3 linked regions of the Homo sapiens genome follow. The protein of the gene in region 1 purifies or fractionates together with the protein of each later gene. This does not show direct contact. Each region holds a gene or a part of one and is shown on either strand. Other genes may lie near its edges.

Region 1 (3,652 bases):
TTCATATATTTCTGCCTGCTTTGTATTCGCTGGCAGCTGATGAGATTGTGCCCACCCAGATTAAGTGTGGGTCTGCCTTTCCCAGCCCACTGACTCAAATGTTAATCTCCTTTGGCAACACCCTCACAGGCATACCCAGGAACAATACTTTGCATCCTTCAATCCAATCAAGTTGACTTTAGACTACATCTCCCTGTGGTACTTGTATCTTTCTGTCATCTTGCCATAAGCTTTATTTCCTCTTGCAGCCCACTTGCTTCAACAATGTCCTTTTTGTTTTATGAGGAAGGCTTATCAATTTTACTTCAAATGATTTGTGATTAACTAAAACAATTCTTTCTTTTCTAGGATTGTAGAAATCTATAGTAGAAGACTACAAGGTAAGCTTTAAAAATCTGTATTAACAGAAAACATTTTTCTTTTTTTTCTTTTTTTAAATTTTTATTTTTGAGACAGAGTCTTGCTCTGTCACCCAGGCTGGAGTGCAGTGGTGCAATCTCGGCTCACTGCAGCCTCAGCCTTCCAAGTAGCTGAGATTATAAGAGTGCATCACCATGCCTTGGCTAATTTTTGTATTTCTAGTAGAGACGGGGTTTCACCATATTGATCAGGCTGGTCTCGAACTTCCGACCTCAGGTGATCTGCCCACCTTGGCCTCCCAAAGTGCTGGGATTACAGGCATGAGCCACTGTGCCTGGCTACAGAAAACATTTTTCCTACACAAAAAGTATTTTTTGTTTTATTACTAGTGCGATAAGTATGACTTATAAAAATGTAAAACCTCTTAGGACTATAAAAAGTCTACTGTTTCAAGCTTCCAGAAGAAATCACTGTTGTATTTGCACATTCCTTCACATTTTCATGCATATACCTGCATTTTCAAATCAATTTATTTGGATTATGTTTAAACAAAAATGGGCTCATTTTATACATAATCAGCCTTGCTTTTTTCCCTGCTTTTTTTCATTTAACAAATCTTAAACATTTTTGCCACATCCATGTAACTATCTCATTCATTCTGGTGGCTGTCTAGAATCCTACCGTATATGCCATGGCTTGGCGTAACCTATACCAGCTCTGATAGATACTGGGGGGTTTCATCAGTTTTCAAATAGATGCAGTGCTGCAATGAATATTCCTGTATGAATTAAAAGACAAGTCATTTTATTCAGGACAGGAACTATATTATTTAGGTTAAATTGTTGGTTTTCAACATTGCTCTAAGCACAATTCAATAATTGGACTGCAGCCCCTTTGTTAACCCTGTTGCAGGCTATTTATTTGCTGCACTACTTTACCTCCATGGAGGTGCTTGGTAACCAGTACTGTGTTGTTCTAACTGCACAGGTATGAGATAATTGCTATTCTAATTCCTTCCCGCAGTGATGCTGGAGGGCTTCAGGGTGTTCTGAGATCTCTTTAGCCCTGTACTTCAGGTGAGGGAGTTGAATCCGGGCCTCTCTGTGGCCCAGTCAGCAGACAAAGCAGTCTGGTAAAAGCTGGTGTGTCTTGGCTCTTAAATCTCACAGAAGTCTGATTTTTAAGATTTCAAATGTTCTAGAGACAGAAAAAGCTTCCAGCTGTTTGTGTCAGACTCTCAAACTGAGCTCCTTATCACATCCACAGTTCAGGAGCGCCTTACAAAACAAATTGCTGTAGCAATCACGGAAGCCTTGCGGCCTGCTGGAGTCGGGGTAGTGGTTGAAGCAACGTAAGTCTGCATCTGCCTTTAGTAACGTCATAATGGTGCACTAGAAGTGATCTTGCTATTTAGTGCTTCTCATATTTTGTAGCACCAGGTGATGCCACACAACTGATATGATAACTGTAGATTTCCATCCCTGAGCCTAAAGCTCTTTTACCACTTTCATTTACTGTTACTGATATAGGAACAGAATATGGGAGAAGTATTTTTTGAGGGTAGGATGGGGCTTGTGGAGGCATAGGGAGTTAAAAGCACAGGTGTAGAGATTTGCATAATCAATAGCCTTTTTTTTTTTTGAGATGGAGCCTCACTCTGTCGCCCAGGCTGGAGTGCAGTGGTGCAATCTCGGCTCACTGCAACCTCCACCTCCCGGGTTCAAGCGATTCTCCTGCCTCAGCCTCCCGAGTAGCTGGGACCACAGGTGTGTGTCACCATGCCCGGCTAATTTTTGTATATTTAATAGAGATGGGGTTTCATCATGTCGGCCAGGCTGGTCTCGAACTCCTGACCTCATGATCCACCCGTCACGGCCTCCCAAAGTGCTAGGATTACAGGCGTGAGCCCCTGCGCCCAGCTCAATCGCCATTTTTTAAAAATGCTCAAGACAGGGTCTTGCTCTCTCACCCAGGCTGGAGTGCAATGGTGTGATCTTGGCTCACTGCAACCTCTGCCTCCCAGGTTCAAGCGATTCTCCTGCCTCAGCCTCCCAAATAGCTGGGATTACAGGTGCCCGCCACCACACCCAGCTAATTTTCGTATTTAGTAGAGATGGGATTTCACCATGTTGGCCAGGCTGGGGATCTCAAACTCCTGACCTCAAGTGATCTGCCCACCTCAGCCTCCCAAAATACTGAGATTACTGGCGTGAGCCACCACGCCAATAGCCATTTTTATGTCTTCTCTTGATTTTATGTCTTCTCTTGATTTCTTCTTTAGCTCTCTGTTGCTCCAAGCCGAGTTTTTCTAATATTTTGTCACACATTTAAAAAATAAAGCCAAGAATTGGTACATTTCTTTAAGTTAGGATGAGTTAAGAGAATTGCAGCTGTTGTGTGGACAAAGTTCATATGTGTTCTGTGACGTGGTGTGAACTCTGTTCTATGTCTGGTATCTAATGTCACCAGGTTGCTCAGACAGGATCTCTGGTCACCATTATCTGAATTCTGCCTGGTGACATCAGTATACTTGAGCATTTATCTGAACACCTAGGCTAGCATAGTGCTGTCTTGGTCCTGAAGGCAGAGCAAGTGAGAATTCTGACTTTCTTTTGATCTAGAAGTTAAGTAACTCTGTAGACCTTTTATATTACTTTCACCCCAGAAGAAAATTCCATTTTTCCCCTTTTTGGATGCTTTAAGGATCAACTACTGATAAAAATAAAAGTTGCAAGACAACTTCAAGAACAAAAAGTTTAGGTTGCTGCAAAGATAATTGCAGTTTTTGCCATTATGTTCAATAGCAAGAACCGCAGTTACTTTTGCATGAACCTAATAGATAACATTTGTGTAAGAAGGGATATTTCGATATACTTGGTAACTGTGAGCTGAGATTTAATCTTTAGGCCTGCTTTTAAAAACCAAACCAGCAGCTGTCTACTCCTTTAAACAACCTGTGTTGCCTTATTTTGTAGACACATGTGTATGGTAATGCGAGGTGTACAGAAAATGAACAGCAAAACTGTGACCAGCACAATGTTGGGTGTGTTCCGGGAGGATCCAAAGACTCGGGAAGAGTTCCTGACTCTCATTAGGAGCTGAGCTTCATTCAGTGTGTGTGCGTTGGTTGCCGATCGTACTGCCAGTAGCATTGTCTGTCTGTCCGGTCTTGTTTGTACATTCCATTTTCAATTGTTACAGATGTGAACTTTATTCCTTGTCACTAATTATATTTAAAATTATTTCTAGGAAGTCAAATAAATATAATAAAGGGTTGAGCCCTCTACTTTCT
Region 2 (3,652 bases), on another chromosome or scaffold:
ATCACCTGAGGTCAGAAGTTCGAGACTAGCCTGGCTAACATGGCAAAACTCTGTCTCTATTAAAAATACAAAAATTAGCCAGGCATGGTGGCGTGCACCTGAAATCCCATCTACTCGGGAGGCTGAGGCAGGAGAATCGTGTGAACTTGGGAGGTGGAGGTTGCAGTGAGCCAAGATCACGCCACTACACTCCAGCCTGGGTGACGGAGCAAGACTCGGTTTCAAAAAAAAGCAAGGGGATGAGAATGAGGGGAATGAGGGGTGAAACAGGGGCATGACATCCCCTGAGACTCATGTTCTCAAACTCACTGTGTGGCGGCTGAAACATCAGGGAGGTGACCCCCAGCCCTCACCTTCAGCCATGACCCTGGGCTACATCCTGACCCCGGACTGAACCCTGACACTCAGCCTGAGACCCCCATCTCTGTCCCAGGCTTGTAGAGCGCTGGCCATGCCCAACCTGATGCCCTTCCCCCTGCTTGCGCTGGACTCTGCATGTTCTCAGGAGAAGGAAGTGAGTGAACTCCTGACCCTCCATCCTTCCTGTCTGCTGGTAACTTCCTCCGAACCCACACAGCAACTGAGAACATGGGTCTCAGGGAGACCCAGAGTACGCATGGTGAAGCGCCTGCTCTACCGCTCGTTCCCCATCCCCTTGCTTTGACAGATGTCAGCGAGGCAGGGCTGGCTGGAGTCCACCGGCCACTGAGGAGCCAGGACTGGGTTCCAGTCCTGCCTGCTGACCCACCAGGGGCCCTAGACCAGCTCCTTCCCGACTCTGAGCCCCAGTCTCCCGACTTGTCCTGTGGATTCCCTGCCTTCCCATATTTTCCAGGCTCACAGCAGGGTTTGGAGGTAGACTGAGGGTAAGGGTGAGGTCCAGACCCCCTGTGCCCGGTACGCAGTGTGTTGAATGAGTAGAAGCCTGGAGGCGGTGGGGCTGGTGCTGACATGGAGAAAGGAAGAGAGGAGGCTCCACACTAGGAACAGGAAAAGTCATGGAAGCTGGACCCAGAGGAGTGAGAGGGAGTTAATGAGGCTGGAACATCAAGGAGGCCTCCCTGGAGGAGGTGAAGGAGGTGAGGAGGCTGAGTGAGGCTAGAGTATCAGGGAGGCCTCCCTGGAAGAGAGGGCAGGAGACAGTGAGTGCGGCTGTGGCACAAGGAGGCCTCCCTGGAGGAGGTGAGAGGGGACAGGGAGTGGGGCTGTGGCACAGGGAGGCCTCCCTGGAGGAGGTGAGAGAGGACAGAGAGTGGGGCTGTGGCATAAGGAGGCCTCCCCAGAGGAGGTGAGAGGCTGTGGCATAGGGAGGCCTCCCTGGAGGAGGTGAGAGGGACAGTGAGTGGGGCTGGAGCTTCGGGGAGAGCTTGGAAACCAGACAGCATAGGAAGGAGGAAGCCAAAGCTGGGAACACCCTCCAGGACCCGCCAGGCTCCTCCCAGCAGGTGGCCCACCCCTCCGCCCCTTCCCCTCACTCCGCATGCCTTGTTTTTCCCTCCCGAATGTAAGTTTCATGAGATTAGGACGCTCATCTGCCTTGTCTCCAAAAGATCATCAGTGCCTGGCATGTGATAGGAACTCGATAAATATTTGTTGAATAAATGAGTGGTTGCCATAGTGATCGTTACAGCCCTGTCCCCATTAGACAGATGAGAAAGCAGCCTCAGAGAGGCAACCCCAGCAAGCCTCAGGCCCCAGCACATATAACAGAATGAACTCCAGAGTCAGGAGCTCCTGCTTTTTGGCCCTAGGCAGGGACTACGGGACTCAGAGCCGCCACAGGCAGAAGCCACAGGCTGCCCGGGCCCATAAAATTTGCGTATTTCCTTGAGGTTGCCATTCCAGCAAGAGGCCATCCTCCTTTACCCTTGAACACCTTTCCCTGCTTTTCTTAGATAGGTAGAGGGAGGCCCAGCGGGTGGGGATGGGCCCGGGGTCACCCAGCAAGTCGGGGCAGAAGGTTTCCTGTTCCAGCCTGAGCCCTGTTACCCGGTTTGGCGCCCAGGCTCTGAAGCCAGGCAGCCAGGCTGCACCCTTTCCTGGCTGGGAGCCCGTGAGCAGGTGGCTTCGCCTCTGTGCCTTGGGTTTTCCTCGCCCGCAAGATGGGGTTCTAGCGGGCCTCACCTCACCGCACGTGGTGAGATGCTGAGGAGGGAACGCCCGTAAGGCGCTCAGAACAGTGCCTGCCACTAAGGAGGCCGTAAAAGTGAGTTGTTGTTGTGCGGCTGCTGTTGTGATTGCTCGGGACACGCTGAGGCCCAGATGGATGCGCGGGCGGGCGGAAGGCGGCCGCGAGGGCTGACGTCAGGCTCCCCATCCCTCCCTCCCGCCTGGATCAAATTCAGGTGACTAAGCGCGTCTGCGAGGGAGGCGGCCGGCCGGGGAGGCCCGAGGTTCCTGCCGCGTGTCCGGGAGACAGGGCCTGGCGCCCCGGCCGCGTGTGTGAGGGCGTGTGTCCCCACAGGAGGGAATATGTGTGCGCAGGCTGTGGACCAGGGTGGTGGCGTGTGTGTGTGTGTGTGTGTGTTGTGGGTCCCCACACAGGAGCGCACTGCATGGAGATGAAAACCTCGGTGTGATGTGTGTGTGCGCAGGTGTGTTTATGCGCCTGTGTGCCTGCAGGTCTCCGTGTACCTATGCCCAGGGTAGGGGGGTGGTCCGCGCCCCTGGGGGCCCTGGGAGCCTGATCCCAGAGCTCATATCTGGACTTTTCCCCATAGTCACTGGTCCCACCAGCCTGGCACTGCCTGCTGGGCTGGATTCTGTGCCCCGGGCGGAAACCCAGGCCCATCTGGAGGCTCACACAGGGGGTGTCTCAAGGCCCTTCCCAAGCTCAGGCCTTAGTAGATACTCTGTAGAAACTTAATTCGGTGGATAACTAGGGCCATGTGGGCAAACAGAAAGATGGACAGACAGGCCGGGAACCAGGCCCATGGTACAGCGAAGGATTCCTGTGGGCATGGGCACTGGCTTAGTCCTGCGGCCGTGAACAGCCAGACTCAAGCCCTCCCTCATTGGGAAAAACTACTGCAATCCTGTCCCCCCAGACTGGGGATCTGCTGCCTCGGACAAGTCATCGAGCCTCTTGGAGCCTCTGTTTCCTAACACGTGCATCAAGCAGAAGGCCACTGTCCTGCCAACTCCCAGGGCGATGGAAGGAACAGAATGAGGTGTGGACACAGGAGTAGTTTGTGCCACAGCACTGTGGGGCTGGGATGTGGCTGTGTCTAGAAGCGTCCAAGAGAGCCTTGATGTGCAAGGTCCAACCCCACCTCTGCCCCCAGCTCCAAGATGGCCTGGCACATATCCCCCACCCAGGTTTTTCCTCCCAGGCTGTGCCCCACCCCCCAAGCGTCTGGCCACTCCCAAGGAATGTGGGCCCCCGGCTCCAGACGCCCACTTGGCCTGGCTTCTTCCACAGGACATGCCCCATCCAGCTGCATCCCTCAAAGGAGCCCCAGAGCAGGCAGACCCTGCTGCCATCCACGCGGGTTCAAGTAGCTCCACCTGGGAGCTGGTCAGGCCCTGGTCAGGCCTCATTCTGAGCGCTGGAAGGCCGCTGTGAACCCCAGTGCCAAGCCGAGGCAGGGGACCAGCTACATCCAGGCGAGGGGATGGACAGCCGTGACCAGCAGAGGACCGAACAGAAGGG
Region 3 (3,652 bases), on another chromosome or scaffold:
AAAGTACACCATGGATATTCAAGAATCAAACAGCTGGGCATGGTGGCTGCCTGTAATCCCCGCAGTTTGGGAGGCTGAGGCAGGAGGATCATTTAAGGCCAGGAGTTTGAGACTAGCCCGGGCAACACAGTGAGACACCCTTTCTAAAACACAACAACAAAAAAAGAATCAAGCATAATTACACTTTATAAAGCAATTTTATGCATAAACGGAATTAACACCTTACACTTTTAGAAATCTAATTTCTTTTAACCCTTTTGAGTTTTTGGTAACAACAACATGAGCATTGTGGAACATTTCCTTATCTAATTTCCATTCGATTTTTGTAAGTTATAAAATATAAATACTTTTGGAAAATTAATTGAAAGAGAGTTCCAATAAATTTATGGTTCTCCAAAGACATTTAAGGGAAATAATTTATATTTACATCTCAGGCATGTGTGATTTCAGTGATGTTGCTTCTTAGCCACCTTGCCTGGCTTGCTTCTATTTCTATGTAAAGATGGCTTTCCCCTAAACACCAAGTATGAATATGTTTCAGTAGCTGTTATACAGCAACAGAAAAGGTCCTTTCCTTTGTGCCATTGTTTTTTAGAGACAAAACATCCTTGTATAATCAGTATAAAGTTTTCACTAAGTCCATAAATAAAACATTTTTTTTTCTAAATCCAGTTTGGATAACTAAAGAAATTAGCTCTGCATATAAAAATTGATTATTACATGTTCTTTTTACTTTTTACAACAGCACAGCAGTTAACACTCTTAATAATCATAGTACCAGATCAAAGACGCCAGTGCCCCTGCCATAAATAAGGGCATCTAAACTTAAACAGAAAACAATCTGATACAGTTTTTTGTTTGTTTTTGTTTTTTTGACACGGAGTCTCACTCTGTCGCCCAGGCTGGAGTGCAATGGCGCGATCTCAGCTCACTGCAACCTCTGCATCCCAGGTTCAAGCAATTCTCCTGAGTTTAGAACTAAACAATTATTGAGGGGGTTACATTTTCTATGTTATATAAATTAATATAGAATGATGTTGCCTTTGGAAAATGATAATTTCCCTCAATTTTATCCAACTATGAGGTACTATCTCATGTTTTAAAATAAATAGGCTTCTGGTAGATGGTATATAAATGAAATTTTGGAAAATCAAATAATGTTTTAAAAGAACAATTTAAAAGAATACCGACTTTTATAATTTAAGAAAAACAAAACAGGTGACAAAGTAACAAACATAGCATGATCTTTTTCTATAAAATACAAAAAAAGAAAAAATCCTATTTTACGTTTATACATTTCTATCAATAATCACAGAGAACCATTTGGAAAGATATACAGCAAACCATGAGCAGTGGTTCCCTAAGTGAGATGAGACTGGAAAGCAGAAACATCAAGGGGAATCACTTTACTTCAAACATCTCTGTATTTGTTACAAAAAAAATTTAGTCTTAATGTTTCCCTTGGGGAAAAATTTCTCAGACCATGAAAACCGAAACAGACAGACACTTACACACACACACACACACACACACACCCACACCCACACCCACACCCACTCTTCTTTATTTTATCAGGCCCTTCTGGGAAATATTGTTAACAAAAATACTAAACTTGAGTCAGAAAACTAGTCTCAGCCTCAATACTCACCAAGTATATGACTTATGGATATCTTTTAATATCAAACAACCTCCATTTCCTTACTTGCAAATTAAAAAAACTTTTTATTTTGTTCACCTCAGAAAGTTACTATGAGGATTAATAAGTATGTATCATTTACAAGTTATGAAAAGCTATGCACGTGGCAGTTACATATTTTAAGCAACCCGAAATTAGTTGGCAGTAAACACCATAAATGCCAGCATTGCAAATAAAATGGGAGGGTTGCTTTCTTAGCTCCCATTCTCCCCTCGAGTTAAATACCTAATTTAAATAGGATAATACCTGACCACAGTCATACAACACTTACAGATTAATATTAACTGGCAACCCTGAAAAATGCTTATCTTTTTTTTTTTTTTTTTTTTTTTTTTGAGACGGAGTCTCGCTCTGTCACCCAGACTGGAGTGCAGTGGCGTGATCTCGGCTCACTGCAAGCTCTGCCTCCCGGGTTCAAGTCATTCTCCTGCCTCAGCCTCCTGAGTAGCTGGGACTACAAGCGCCCACCACAACGCCCGGCCGATTTTTTCTATTTTTTAATAGAGACGGGGTTTCACTGCGTTAGCCAGGATGGTCTCGATCTCCTGACCTCGTCATCTTAACTACCTCATATGGTTGTGAAAATTACATGAGTTAAAATATGTAAAGTATTTAGAATAGTGTTTGGCTTACAGAAAGCAATAATTTACTAATACTACCACGATTATGATTATGATAACCTCCCAAGATTTAATGAGTTAAGATAAAAGTGCTTATAAATTATGAAAGTATGACAAGTGATGGAGGTGTTAGAAAAAACTAGGACTTCATTTAAATCTCTTATCAGGGAAACATCTACTTATTAATGTTTCCTCTCCTCTTACAGCAGGTAACTACTGTGCAATCGCTAAGTGCTTTCCATGAATTTTTAACTTACAATTTTTCTGAGTAAATTCAAAGTAATTATATTTGATCTTATTGCTAACCCTTGCTTTTACAATACAAATAAATGGAAAGACAAAATTACGAAGTTAAACAGAAATGAAGGTTTCCATAAGTAACTTTCAAAGGTTCAAAAATAATTTTAAGTCTGTTTTGTTTCAATTCAAACCTCCAAACTGATTTCAATTTGAATGCAGCTCCATTAGAAGGAACTATGATGGTCAGCTTCCATTAACATTGAATGAATCATGGGCCCCAACTTCTTGTCTGTTATTATCATTCCTCATTTCTGAGATTCTAGGATGCCATCTAGAATCTTTTAACACCATCAACATGAACATTTAATCACTCTAAATTGATAAAAGCTAGCAAGTGAAGATATACCACCAGAAATATTTAAACCTCATTCAGAAGGGTCGAGTCAAAATTCTCAAAAACTAGCATCCTTTCAATGGATAAGTGAGTTAATCTACTAACACAAACTTCTTTCCTTAGTCCAAATTACAGACCTAATAGATTTTTTGGCTATTCCCTCACAACCTCATTCTTTCAATAAAATACTACGCAGCCAAGAAAAATGATACAGATCAATACTTATAGGCATGGAGATCTCTCTACAATATATTGTTGGAAAAGGCAGGCTGTAGAATAACAAGTATAATCATCTCGGTTTTATAAAAATACACACACTCACAGGCAGGCAGAAAAGACTGGAACAATATACACCACAACAATGAAAGTAGCTGACTTAGGGTGGATGGCAAAATTTTGGGTGTTTCTCTATATTTTCTTCATCATCTGGATTTTTTTTCCAATAGTAAGTATATACCTTTTTTTTATAATTGGGGAAAATGCTGTTTTCATTAGCTAGTCAGGCAACAAACATATGCCTATGCTTGTCTCAAAAATCTACAGGTCAGAATTGCTTCATTTAGAGTTCAAAGACAAATACATAATTTTAGACCCACTTACTATTTGATCACTGACAACCATCAATACTTCTTTACTTAACTCATCCAGAAGTAAAAAGATACAGTGTGTTAAAAATAAAAATCAGAGGAGCTAGAGGTACCA

What was found.
Region 2: the proteins of GCH1 (region 1) and CAMKK1 purify together in Homo sapiens (affinity purification with mass spectrometry, with the first as the bait; one study listed by BioGRID). This does not show direct contact.
Region 3: the proteins of GCH1 (region 1) and PPM1B purify together in Homo sapiens (affinity purification with mass spectrometry, with the first as the bait; one study listed by BioGRID). This does not show direct contact.

What each region holds. Positions count from the first base shown.
Region 1 is NC_000014.9:54,843,827-54,847,478, reverse strand, and holds part of GCH1 (GTP cyclohydrolase 1), read left to right. Parts: intron 1-348; coding exon 349-380; intron 381-1,626; coding exon 1,627-1,711; intron 1,712-3,335; coding exon 3,336-3,462; 3' UTR 3,463-3,609; coding exon of another isoform or gene 3,610-3,652. UniProt on the Homo sapiens protein: Positively regulates nitric oxide synthesis in umbilical vein endothelial cells (HUVECs). May be involved in dopamine synthesis. May modify pain sensitivity and persistence.
Region 2 is NC_000017.11:3,886,409-3,890,060, forward strand, and holds part of CAMKK1 (calcium/calmodulin-dependent protein kinase kinase 1), read right to left. Parts: intron 1-3,652. UniProt on the Homo sapiens protein: Calcium/calmodulin-dependent protein kinase that belongs to a proposed calcium-triggered signaling cascade involved in a number of cellular processes. Phosphorylates CAMK1, CAMK1D, CAMK1G and CAMK4. Involved in regulating cell apoptosis.
Region 3 is NC_000002.12:44,203,238-44,206,889, reverse strand, and holds part of PPM1B (protein phosphatase 1B), read right to left. Parts: intron 1-3,652.